3 linked regions of the Homo sapiens genome follow. The protein of the gene in region 3 interacts with the protein of the main gene of each other region in a biochemical or structural test. Each region holds a gene or a part of one and is shown on either strand. Other genes may lie near its edges. The genes, in order: CCDC88A, PTPRB and INSR.

The links.
Region 1: the proteins of INSR (region 3) and CCDC88A form a complex in vitro, tested with the Homo sapiens proteins (one study listed by BioGRID).
Region 2: of the proteins of INSR (region 3) and PTPRB, one has a biochemical effect on the other in vitro, tested with the Homo sapiens proteins (one large-scale study listed by IntAct).

The regions. Positions count from the first base shown.
Region 1 is NC_000002.12:55,413,315-55,416,969, forward strand, and holds part of CCDC88A (girdin), read right to left. Parts: intron 1-3,655. UniProt on the Homo sapiens protein: Bifunctional modulator of guanine nucleotide-binding proteins (G proteins). Acts as a non-receptor guanine nucleotide exchange factor which binds to and activates guanine nucleotide-binding protein G(i) alpha subunits.
Region 2 is NC_000012.12:70,515,325-70,518,979, forward strand, and holds the end of PTPRB (receptor-type tyrosine-protein phosphatase beta), read right to left. Parts: 3' UTR 546-3,655; downstream 1-545. UniProt on the Homo sapiens protein: Plays an important role in blood vessel remodeling and angiogenesis. Not necessary for the initial formation of blood vessels, but is essential for their maintenance and remodeling. Can induce dephosphorylation of TEK/TIE2, CDH5/VE-cadherin and KDR/VEGFR-2.
Region 3 is NC_000019.10:7,168,760-7,172,414, forward strand, and holds part of INSR (insulin receptor isoform Long preproprotein), read right to left. Parts: coding exon 3,531-3,655; intron 1,993-3,530; coding exon 1,778-1,992; intron 1-1,777. UniProt on the Homo sapiens protein: Receptor tyrosine kinase which mediates the pleiotropic actions of insulin.

The sequences.
Region 1 (3,655 bases), on a different chromosome or scaffold from region 3:
AACCAGCACTGGGGATATAGTGGGTCAACAAAACAGAAAATAGACTTATCTGTCCCTGCCTTAGTAGATAATCCTTCCCCATCAGGAAGGGAAACATTATCTCCCATCTTATAAATGTAGGAACTGTAATTTGGAGATATTAGGCTCACATACCAATAAGTAGCACAGCTAGAACTGAACCCAAGTCTATGTCTATCTGACATAAGGCTCAAATTCATTCCACTTTACTACACATGGCTGTATTATTCAATCATTCAACAGAAATATATCAAGAATGTACTGTGTGTCAAACACTGTCCTAAGAATACAGAGACAAAAGATAGAGTCCCTGGCTTCAGGAAACTCACAGCCTAGTCAATAGAGTCAAGCAAAGAGTCAGGCTGGTTTGTGCCTATAATCCCAGAACTTTGGGAGGCTGAGGTGGGTGGATCGCTTGAGACCAGCCTGGGCAACACAGTGAAACTCCATCTCTACAAAAAATACAAAAATTAGTCAAGCATGGTAGCGCGTGCCTGTGGTCCTAGGTACTTGGGAGGCTAAGGTGGGAGGATAGCTTGAGCCCGGGAGGTGAAGGCTGCAGTGAGCGGTGATCATGCCCCTGCACTCCAGCCCGGGCAACAGAACAAGACCGTCTCAAAAAACAAAAACAAAAACAAAAAAAAAAAACAAGCAAACAAACAAACAAAAAAGGGCAGATGACTTCTGAAGTCCCTTCAAACCCAAAATTCTAAAGGAAAAGCCATAACAAGTTTATCACAATTACCAAGTGTTCCAAGTACAGCTCTCTATAACTATCTAATAGGGTTGAATCATAAATAATAATTCCAAATATTGTTCTGATACTATTAACAATTTTCTCAGTACTTAAAATCCTAAGACATCCATATTTTCAACCGTTTGGGTAATATGAATTGGACGTTTTTAAAATTTTAGGAGTATGAAATTAACTACAATGTCACAAATTCCTTAAAAACTCACAGCAAGTAATATTCAAAACTGGCTCCAGAATTAAATGACATCTCAAACAGGAAAATAATTATTTCTACTTCACTGTCACCAAGCCCTACAACTGATAACAATAAAGAAAAAAGATTTCAATCCACTGAAGTAGGAAAATGCCCTACAGCGTACAGAAGAGCTGGCCCATCATTCCAGATCTCTGAATAGCTTTCCTCTTCCTTCCCATTAGTTTAAGACGATTGAAGTCATGTTACAAGTTCTAACAGAGATTATTTGCTTCAAAAAGCTACTCAATGAAATTCAGGATTCATCTCTGAATACAGTAAATCTCAAGTCAGTGAAAAGACTTCAAAATTGTGAGGCAGAGTCAGTAAACAGTGTCATGAAGAAGTTAGCTCTTCACTTTCAGAGTCTGGGTGCAAAACAGCAACAACAGAGTCATTAAATTAATCAATTTTCTTAGTCTTAATAAACATTTTAGATGAAAAAACTTATATAATAAGGTTCCTGGCCAGGTGTGGTGGCTAATGCCTGTAATCCCAGCACTTTGGGAGGCTGAGGCAGGCGGATCACGAGGTCAGGAGATCGAGACCATCCTGGCTAACACGGTGAAACCCCGTCTCTACTAAAAAAATACAAAAAATTAGCCAGGCGTGGTGGTGGGTGCCTGTAGCCCCAGTTACTCGGGAGCCTGAGGCAGGAGAATGGCGTGAACCCGGGAGGTAGAGCTTGCAGTGAGTTGAGATCACACCACTGCACTCCCGCCTGGGCATGGAGCGAGACTCTGTTTCAAAAAAAAAAAAAAAGGTTCCTATAAAAAAAGTCCATCTCACATCTAAAAGCAGTAATATAAGACTAGCAGAGCAAAAATGTAATTAAAAGTATATAAACAGCCAGGCATTGTGGTGCGCGTGCCTGTAGTCCCAACTACTCAGATGTTTAGGGTGGGAGGATGGCCTGACCCCAGGAGTTTGAGGCCATAATGCACTATGATCACATATTCCAGCCTGAGCAACATAGCCAGACCCCATCTTGAAAAACAAAAAAGTATACAAACATATTTCTACTGGTGGCCAGAGACCAAATTTGCCCTCCTCCCTGAAACAACTGGGGGGAAAAAAAGACAAAATACATAAAACGTTTTTCAAGACATTGGACATCAGGCAACAAAAGACAGTGATCCCCAATCGATGGGAAACAAGCATGAATCCAACAACTGCTCCAGCATTATGGCCTTGAAAGAGTTTCCAGGCCACAGAACAGGAAGAGGGGAATCCAGGCAGAGCACAATGGTCTGAGCTGAGGGGACAGAACTGAGTCTGGAGACAGCAAGGTAGCTAAAGTACACAGGGCAGAGTACTTAACAGAGTTGAACAGTGAGAAAGATCTGCAGAGGGTATCCCTCAAGTCTGAGTACTTATCAGAATATAAGTGTGAGGAAACTACCCAAAGATAGTGAAAGAACCACCAAAAAGACTGAGAGCGAACACCACCAAGTAGGTCCTGTTTCCACCAGCTGGAGTATTCAGAGGGGTTTTGCCTCAACAGTGTGACAAAGTAGTACTGCCTAACAAATCTTAAAAGCATGTCCCCAAAAGATCAAACTGTTTTCAGGTAACTTAATGCATCCCAGAACGAAGCTCAAGATTTTTGTATTTAATGGAATACAAAAATATCCAGCGCCAAACAAGCTAAAATTTCAAATGACTGGCATCAAATTAAAAAAAAAATCACCAGGCATGCAAAAGCAACAGAATCCATAATGGGAAGAAATATCAATCAACCGAAACCAACCCCAAAATGACACAGACAGAATTAGCAGACATAGACATTAAGCCAATTATAACTGTATTCCATATGTTCAAGAAGCTAGAGAAAAGACAGAGCATGAAAAACATAGACATGGAAGATATAAGACAATTTCTAAAGATGAAGTTATAATATCTGGAATGAAAAATATGGTGGGTGGGATTAAGAGCAGACTAAACATTATAGAAGAAAAAATTAATAAATTTGGAGACATCACAACAGACTATCCAAAATGAAACAAAGAAGACTGAAAGAAAATTGAATTAAACATCAGTAAGTTTTAAGACAACATCAAAGCTACTAATATATATGTAACTGGACTTCCAAAAGGGTGAAGAGGTCAAATAAATAAATAAATAAATATATATATATATATATATATATATATATATATATATATATATGTATATATTTTCTTCTAGGAATAATGACTGAAACTTTTCTAAATTTGATAAAAACTATAAACCCACAGATCCAAGACACTCATTGAATTCCAAGCACAAGAAACATGGAAAATATATAAATAGTTTCATTTACAAAGGGTTCTTGCTCACAAATTCTGTAACTAAATGTACTGTAGAAATTAGACTAGGCCTAACTTTTACATTTACTAGGTATAGAGTTACAACTGACACTTTATAATAGAGTACATTAAAGCATACATTAATCTAAGTAAAGTGCTTAACAGAAATCCTAATGACTTCAAAATTAGCAAAATACAGCTTATAAAACAATGTATATTTTGTTGCCCTATCAGTTAAATAATTTATTAAGATAAATTTGATCTTATTTTAGCAAATTATTCAAACAAAGCAAAAGTATACTTTTTTTTTCTTTTCTTTTCCTTTAATTTTATAGGTCATTTACAACAGAATTAGGACACCGA
Region 2 (3,655 bases), on a different chromosome or scaffold from region 3:
TATTTGTAAATCTGCTACTGTACATTTTTTAAAAAAATAAAGGTTTCTGTGAACAAGTTATAGAAAAATGAAATATTGGAGTTGTGAAGGACAGTGATCTTTCCACTAAAATATGAAAAAGGCAAAAGGGCAAACTCATAACTCTGGAAATAGTCATGGCGTCTCTTTACCAAATGCCACACTGTCCGCAAATGTGTGAAGTGTCTCTGAAGGGCTCAGTGGAAATCTAGCCAGGGCAGTACCTCTGAGAGTACACCAACACTGTTGGTAACAGATGACATTTTGGTTATTAATGAAGTAAAGAACTGAAAACAGGAATTTAGTTGGAGACGGTCAGCTGGAGAGTCTATTATTATGTACACAATACTGTAGGTAACCAACTCAGTACTTACAGGACTAAAGGTTAAGACAACTATATTCTTCATGATAATGTCCTGGAAGATTTTTCTCATTTTAAAGCAGTCACTTTTGGCCTTTCTCCTGAACAGACAGATGACAAAAATTGATAAATGAGGAGCAGGTGAATAGAAGACAGAGCACTCTCCTTCAACAAACTGCAGTTTTATTCCTGTACTAGTGAGAATGTATGCAAGATGCTATATAGATTTTTTTTTTACCACAGTTACAAATATAAAAATGTATTAAGCAAATACATAATTTAAATTGAAAGACTAAGGAAGTTCTTTGTTCAAATACAGTTAGTTAGAAATATTGTGGGTAGATGCTATAATATGAAAAAATAGAATCATCTGCCATCTTAACTGGATTTTCAGAGAAATAATAAATGATATTAAAAACATAAAAGTGCTCTATTATAGAACATAAAAAGTTCAGTTGCTGTATTTACTTACATTATTTATGCTTCACACAAATGAAGGAATGGCTAGATTAACCTGCACGGACAACAGTATTATTGGACACTGACTACCTAACATCCAAAATATCAGGCCAGGAGCAATTTCAAGAAGTGTGTGTAGAATGTCTATGAGCTGTGCACTAATTTCCACAAGGTAGGAGTCGAGACGAGATTAAAGACTTGGTCCTTGTTCTTGAGGAATTTATAAGCCCAATAGTCCTGCATAGAAAACCAGAAATACTCTTCCAGTAGAGCACTGGTGCACCCTCTTGTCAGTGTGGCAGACTAGGACATTCCACAAAGGCTGGTACAGGCTTTCCTACTAACCTGCAGATGGAATGCTGTCCAACTCTGCCACAAACTCTTAAAGCCACAATTTCATGTGTTCCTTTCTTGATGGAGGTGCTTATCTACGCACACAGCTATTAGAACATCTCAGCATAACTGAACGTTTGTTCTTGGGGTGAGGATATTATTTATTAAAATAGCTATAACCAATTCTTTTTGTGACTGTTCTAGAAGGGACACATTGCATTTGTCTGACATTATTCACAGTTTTGAATAACTTATTTTGGTGTCTTATATAAGATCATGTGAATTGGCATAGAGGTTATAAAAATAATCTTTGGTAAACCTGTTAATCTCTTATTTCCATTACATAAGCCTCTATTTTCAGAGCATTCACCAACAATTTCTTTATTTAATAAGTGTATCTTATATAGACAATCTTTTAAAAAATAAAATGCCTTATTTGTGTTGCATACATTTATTCCGAGGGAGCCTCCCTACAAGTCAAGAGTATTCTCTTAGCCAGAAATACTTCTATTGCTAGAAACATTTTTAGAACAGAACAGATTTTTCCTGTTATCATGGCTGCATCAAATGTTACCCTGCATTTTAACTAAAATGGCCAAACATTTTCAAAGTCATCATGCACTACAAGAATCTAAGGCAGTGTGTCTAAAATGCCAAACCCAGTACATTTAGTTAAATATCTGGTCAATTCAAAAAGCAAAATAAATTGATTCAATTGTTTAATCAGTTAAACCATCTGGCCAACATAGAGTGAATCCTCAAAAGGGCAACATGTCCTAATAGAAACGTGTGACAGGATTGTCCAAGCACACCCAGGCCACACAGAAGAGATGCCATTTTATCTTCATGATGATGTCTGGTTAGATTCTGTTTTGCAAATATTTTCTCTTTGCATCATTTCACTTGCTTTTTGCAGTCATCGTTTACAGATTTTCCTTTGATAGGGAACATTCTTTGAATACCTGATGTAATTCTAAATTTCAGGTTAAAAATAGCAGGGCAGAAAATTAGCACGGCATTTTCTCCTTCAACTCTTCAGGAATGAGGTAGGCTTGAGGGCTTGCTCACTGCAACTTGGAGGAGGATCAGTTATTCCTTATTGCCACTCTGTCTTGGCTAATCAGTTATATTTTCATTTCCTCAGTGAAATGGAACCCAGAAAGCCCTTGAACTGCTATCATATACAAGCAGTTTATTACCTATTGATTTTCACCAGGTCAGGTTTGGTCTGGCTCATGTTTGTAAACTAAAACTCTAGAGCGTCTCAGAGTTTGGGCTCAGATACTACCACTGCTGTTGTGCAGATCTGGTAGCTTTATGATTTCAGGATTCCAACCTCAAAGAATTCTTAGAAAGCTAAGTGAATGAGAATTTAGTATATGGCCAATAATATTATTGCAAAAGGTAAGGAAAATGTTTAACATAAGAAACTGGATCCTTAAACAGCAAGGCAAGAGAATCAGCATGTGAAGGGTAGCATGTGAGGTCTATTTTTATATTGCTGGACATCTGGTAAATGGTTTAATATTATTTTCACATGTCATTTTGGGCTTTCTTCCGAGAGGTGATTACAAAATTTATCAAAGACCCTCCCAAAGAAAACTGCCCCGAAAATGTCTGTGTGCTGTGTGCCTTTTAGTATTTAAAAGTGAATTGGCCAGGTGCGGTGGCTCACTCTTGTAATCCTAGCACTTTGGGAGGTTGAGGTGGGTGGATCACCTAAGGTCACGAGTTCAAGACCAGCCTGGCCAACATGGTGAAACCCCATCTCTACTAAAAACACAAAAATTAGCCAGACATGGTGGCAGGCACCTGTAATTCCAGCTACTTGGGAGGCTAAGGCAGAATCGCTTGAACCTGGGAGGCGGAGGTTGTAGTGAGCTGAGATTGTGCCACTGCACTCCAGCCTGGGCAACAGAGCAAGACTTCATTTCAAAAAAAAGTGAAATTATGGTCATCTCTTTGATGATGTGGAACCTGAAAGGACTATGAAATTATACTCATGGGTATAAAAGATAATATGAACAGTAGATAAAAATCACATTCAACTGGGAAAACAAACATATTCAAGTAGGAGGAGTGGGGCAAGTAATAAAACAGAGGGACTCAGAGGTTTAAGGGATAGAGAATTACTTAGGACAAATATGTGCAAGCCCAGGTAAGAGAGGTGAGTCTTTGAAAATTCTGATTCAAGAGCTGAACAATTGGCTGCTTTCCAGAGAACAACAGAATGACAATACAAAATTGATTTAATGAGATGAGGTTAAAGGAGTTAATTATAACGAACTTGGAAAAATAATTATTAAGATGCTAGATGGGACTCTCCCAAGATTTGATAGCTCAAAAGCACTTTGAAGTCTTGATGATTAAAGTGTACTGCACAGGTACACAGACAGGATGCCCACCAAGACAGGAAATGGAGTGTTTACCAAGACATAACACATGATGCAATTAAATGGAAATAAATCCAATAGAGCTGAATGT
Region 3 (3,655 bases):
CTAGTTTTTGTATTTTTTTTTTTTAGTAGAGATGGAGTTTCACCACATTGGCCAGGCTGGTCTCGAACTCCTGACCTCAAGTGATCTGCCTGCCTCGGCCTCCCAGAGTGCTGGGATTCCAGGCGTGAGCCACCATGCCCAGCCCTTGCACTACATTTTGACATAAGTAACTAACTCCCCATGAAGGTATCCCAGAAGCCCTTGGCAGCTCACTGTTTAGAATCTGTCAGGGAAGTGCAGTCAGCAGGCAGCCTGCAGCTGCAGAAACTGCAGGACCTGCTGTAGCATTCCAGCCAAAACCTGACTCTCCCTGGACAGCCCCCACCTATGACTGAGCTTGGTAGATGCCTGGCCGTCCCTTTGCAATGCAGAACTTCCCTGCAGACAACCGTGGCCTTGATCTCTTTCTGGGTTTGGCCAAGACTCAGGGATGCATCACCATCTGAGACTCTCCCAGCCCTATCCTCCCTCCTTCCCGCTCTCTGTTCACAGAGGTCAGACACACGCTATTGTCAAAAGGCTCTTCATGGCTGAGCGTGGTGACTCACACCTGTAATCTCAGCACTTTGGGAGGCCGAGGCGGGAGGATCACCTGAGGTCAGGAGTTCAAGACCACCCTGGCCAACATGGCAAAACCCTGTCTCTACTAAAAATACAAAAAAAAAAATTAGCCGGGCTTGGTGGCATGTGCCTGTAATCCCAGCTATTCTGGAGGCTGAGGCGAGATAATTACCTGAACCCAGGGGAAGGAGGTTGCAGTGAGGCAAGATCACGCCACTGCACTCCAGCCCTGGGTGACAGAGCAAGACTCTGTCCCAAAAAAAAAAAAAAAAAAAAAAGAAGCTCTTCCTCTGTTTCATATTTTATGAATATTACCCTCAATACATTTTCTGCACTCCTAACTTCAACTTGGCAGTCACTTCCCAGGAGATGCAGACTGACATAGGTATTTTACTCAACTTTGAAGTCTTCAGCATCAGCCTGATACACATATAAGAAGGTGTCATCCATTCATCCATCATTCATTCATCCATTCATTCAGTGCTTGTATGACTTCATCCCGTATCCGGTACTATATGGCACAGTAAGCATAGTGATAATATTAATAAATGTGCAGAATCTGCCCTCAGTAAGAAAGCCTATCACACAGTGAGTTGTTAGAGGGAAGTAATACCCCCTGGGGGTGACTGTGATGGATGAGAGAGGACAGCCACATTATCTGGTTTGTGGACCACTTACAGCAGGGGTCCCCAGCCCCTGGGCCACAGACCAGTACTTATCCATGGCCTGTTACGAACAGGGCTGTACAGCAGGAGGTGAGTGATAGGTGAGCAAGTGAAGCTTCATCTGTATTTACAGTCACTCCCCATCGCTTGCATGACCACCTGAGTTCTGCCTCCTGTCAGATTAGCGGCGGCATTAGATTCTCACAGGGGTGTGAACCCTATTGTGAACTGTGTACATGAGGTACCTAGACTGCACACTCCTTATGAAAATCTAATGCCTGATGATCTGTCACTGTCTCCCATCACCCCCAGCTGGGACCATCTAGTTGCAGGAACACAAGCTCAGGGTTCCCATTGATTCTACATGATGGTGAGTTGTACAATTCTTTCATTATATATTACAATGTAATCATAATAGGAATAAAGTGCATAGTAAATGTAATGCACTTGAATCATGCTGAAACCATCCCCACCCACCACCAGTCCATGGAAAAACCATCTTCCACTACACCGGTCCCTCATGCCAAAAAGGTTGGGGACCAGTGACTTACAGGATGCCTGGTCCCCATTGGTCTTCAGGGCAATGTCGTTTCTCTCCTGGCGCCCCTTGGTTCCTGAAACTTCTTCCATCTTGTGGATTTCTGACAAGCAGAGTTTGGGGTTATAGTGGAAGAAGAGTTTCCCCTGAGTGATGGTGAGGTTGTGTTTGCTCCAGTCCCAGAGCTGCCTTAGGTTCTGGTTGTCCAAGGCATAGAAGGAGTAGTTCCTATGGAAAAAACACACACATCTAGTCATTCAACGGCTGGTCTTCTACAACTCCAAGATGGTGTGGCCATGCTCGGAGTTGATCTTGTTCAGTGCTACGTGCCTAATCCTCTCCACTTGCTTGGCACATACTCAACACATATTTGTTGAATGTGGATAACAGAGGAAGTTGAGGAAGTTTTCATGGCCAGGAAGGAGGCTCAGCTCAGTCTTGAAGAGGGGTGGTGAGTCTGTGATGGACTGAGGAATAGGTTTTGCAGAAACCAATTTCTGCAAATAGGGGAAATACTGATAACACAGAGGCACCTAAGCTGAGTTCAGGGAAGAGCAAAGTAGCCTGTTTTGGCCAATAGGTGACAGGAAATAGCTGTAGTTGCAATGGACCAGACCCTCTAGTATATTGCATGCCAGACCAAGACCAAGAACATGTGGCCATCCTTAATAAGGAGAAAGGAGCCATTGAAGGTTTTTGTTTGTTTGTTTGTTTGTTTTATTGAGATGGATTCTCACTCTGGTGCCTAGGCTGGAGTACAGATAATATAGTCTAAACTATATTGTTTAGACCACCTTCTCAAGTCACTTACCAGCTCATGTTGATTAACATGTCCTTTTGTCCCTTTCCCCATTTGCTGTCTGTTCTACAGATGTGAGGCTGGGGCTGAGGCAGCCATCTTGTGACCATGAGGAGCACAAAGATGGAAAGAATCTGGGTCTTCCACAGACCTCCTGCCTATGAGTCAATCTTGATCTAGCTAGTTTGAGTTTCTGCTGTTTTGCTAATAGAGTTTCTAGGACCTCAAGGAGAAGGTTGGAATATACTGGAATATACTGAGATGGAGTCCATCCCAGAAATTAGGATGGACAACCGGGACTAAGAGGGAATGTTCATTTTATGCATGCCAAACTCTACTCACAATGCAGCCCAAACAGCAAATTTAGCAAAAATTCCAGCCTGTACCCTTGGAGGATGGGCACCAAGGTTGGGCTGCTCCCACTTTTGTTTCTCAAGAATGACTATAAAAAAGCTTTTACAATTTTTGGCTGGATGGACCTTTAGGCACATTCCAAGTTCTTTTTTCCCGAGGTTTTGCCAGATATACTTTTATTTGTTTTTTATTTGTTTTTATTTGATTTTTAAAAAATCCTTAAGTTTTTCCTTTTCTTTTCTTTTTTTTTTTTTGGACAGAGTCTCACTCTGTCACCCAGGCTGGAGTGCAGTAGTGTGATCTTGGCTCACTGCAACCTCTGCCTCCCAGGTTCAAGCTATTCTCCTGCCTCAGCCTCCCAAGTAGCTGGGATTACAGGCATGCACTATCACACTTGGCTAATTTTTGTACTTTTAGTAGAGACAGGGTTTCACCATGTTGGCCAGGCTGGTCTTGAACTCCCCGCCTCAAGTGATTCACCCACGTTGGCCTCCTAAAATGCTGGGATTACAGGCATCAGCCACCACACCTGGCCAAAAAAATCCTTAAGTTGTTCTAATACACGAACTTCCTAGTTAGCACTCAGGCCATACACACAATCAGGCCCACGTACCCAATTTCCAAGGTCTCTCCTCGAATCAGACGTAACTTCCGGAAGAAGGAAAGTGACACCAGAGCGTAGGATCGGCGGATTTTTAGATACCCTGAAATTTCTTCAATGAGGCCGAGGTTGGCTTC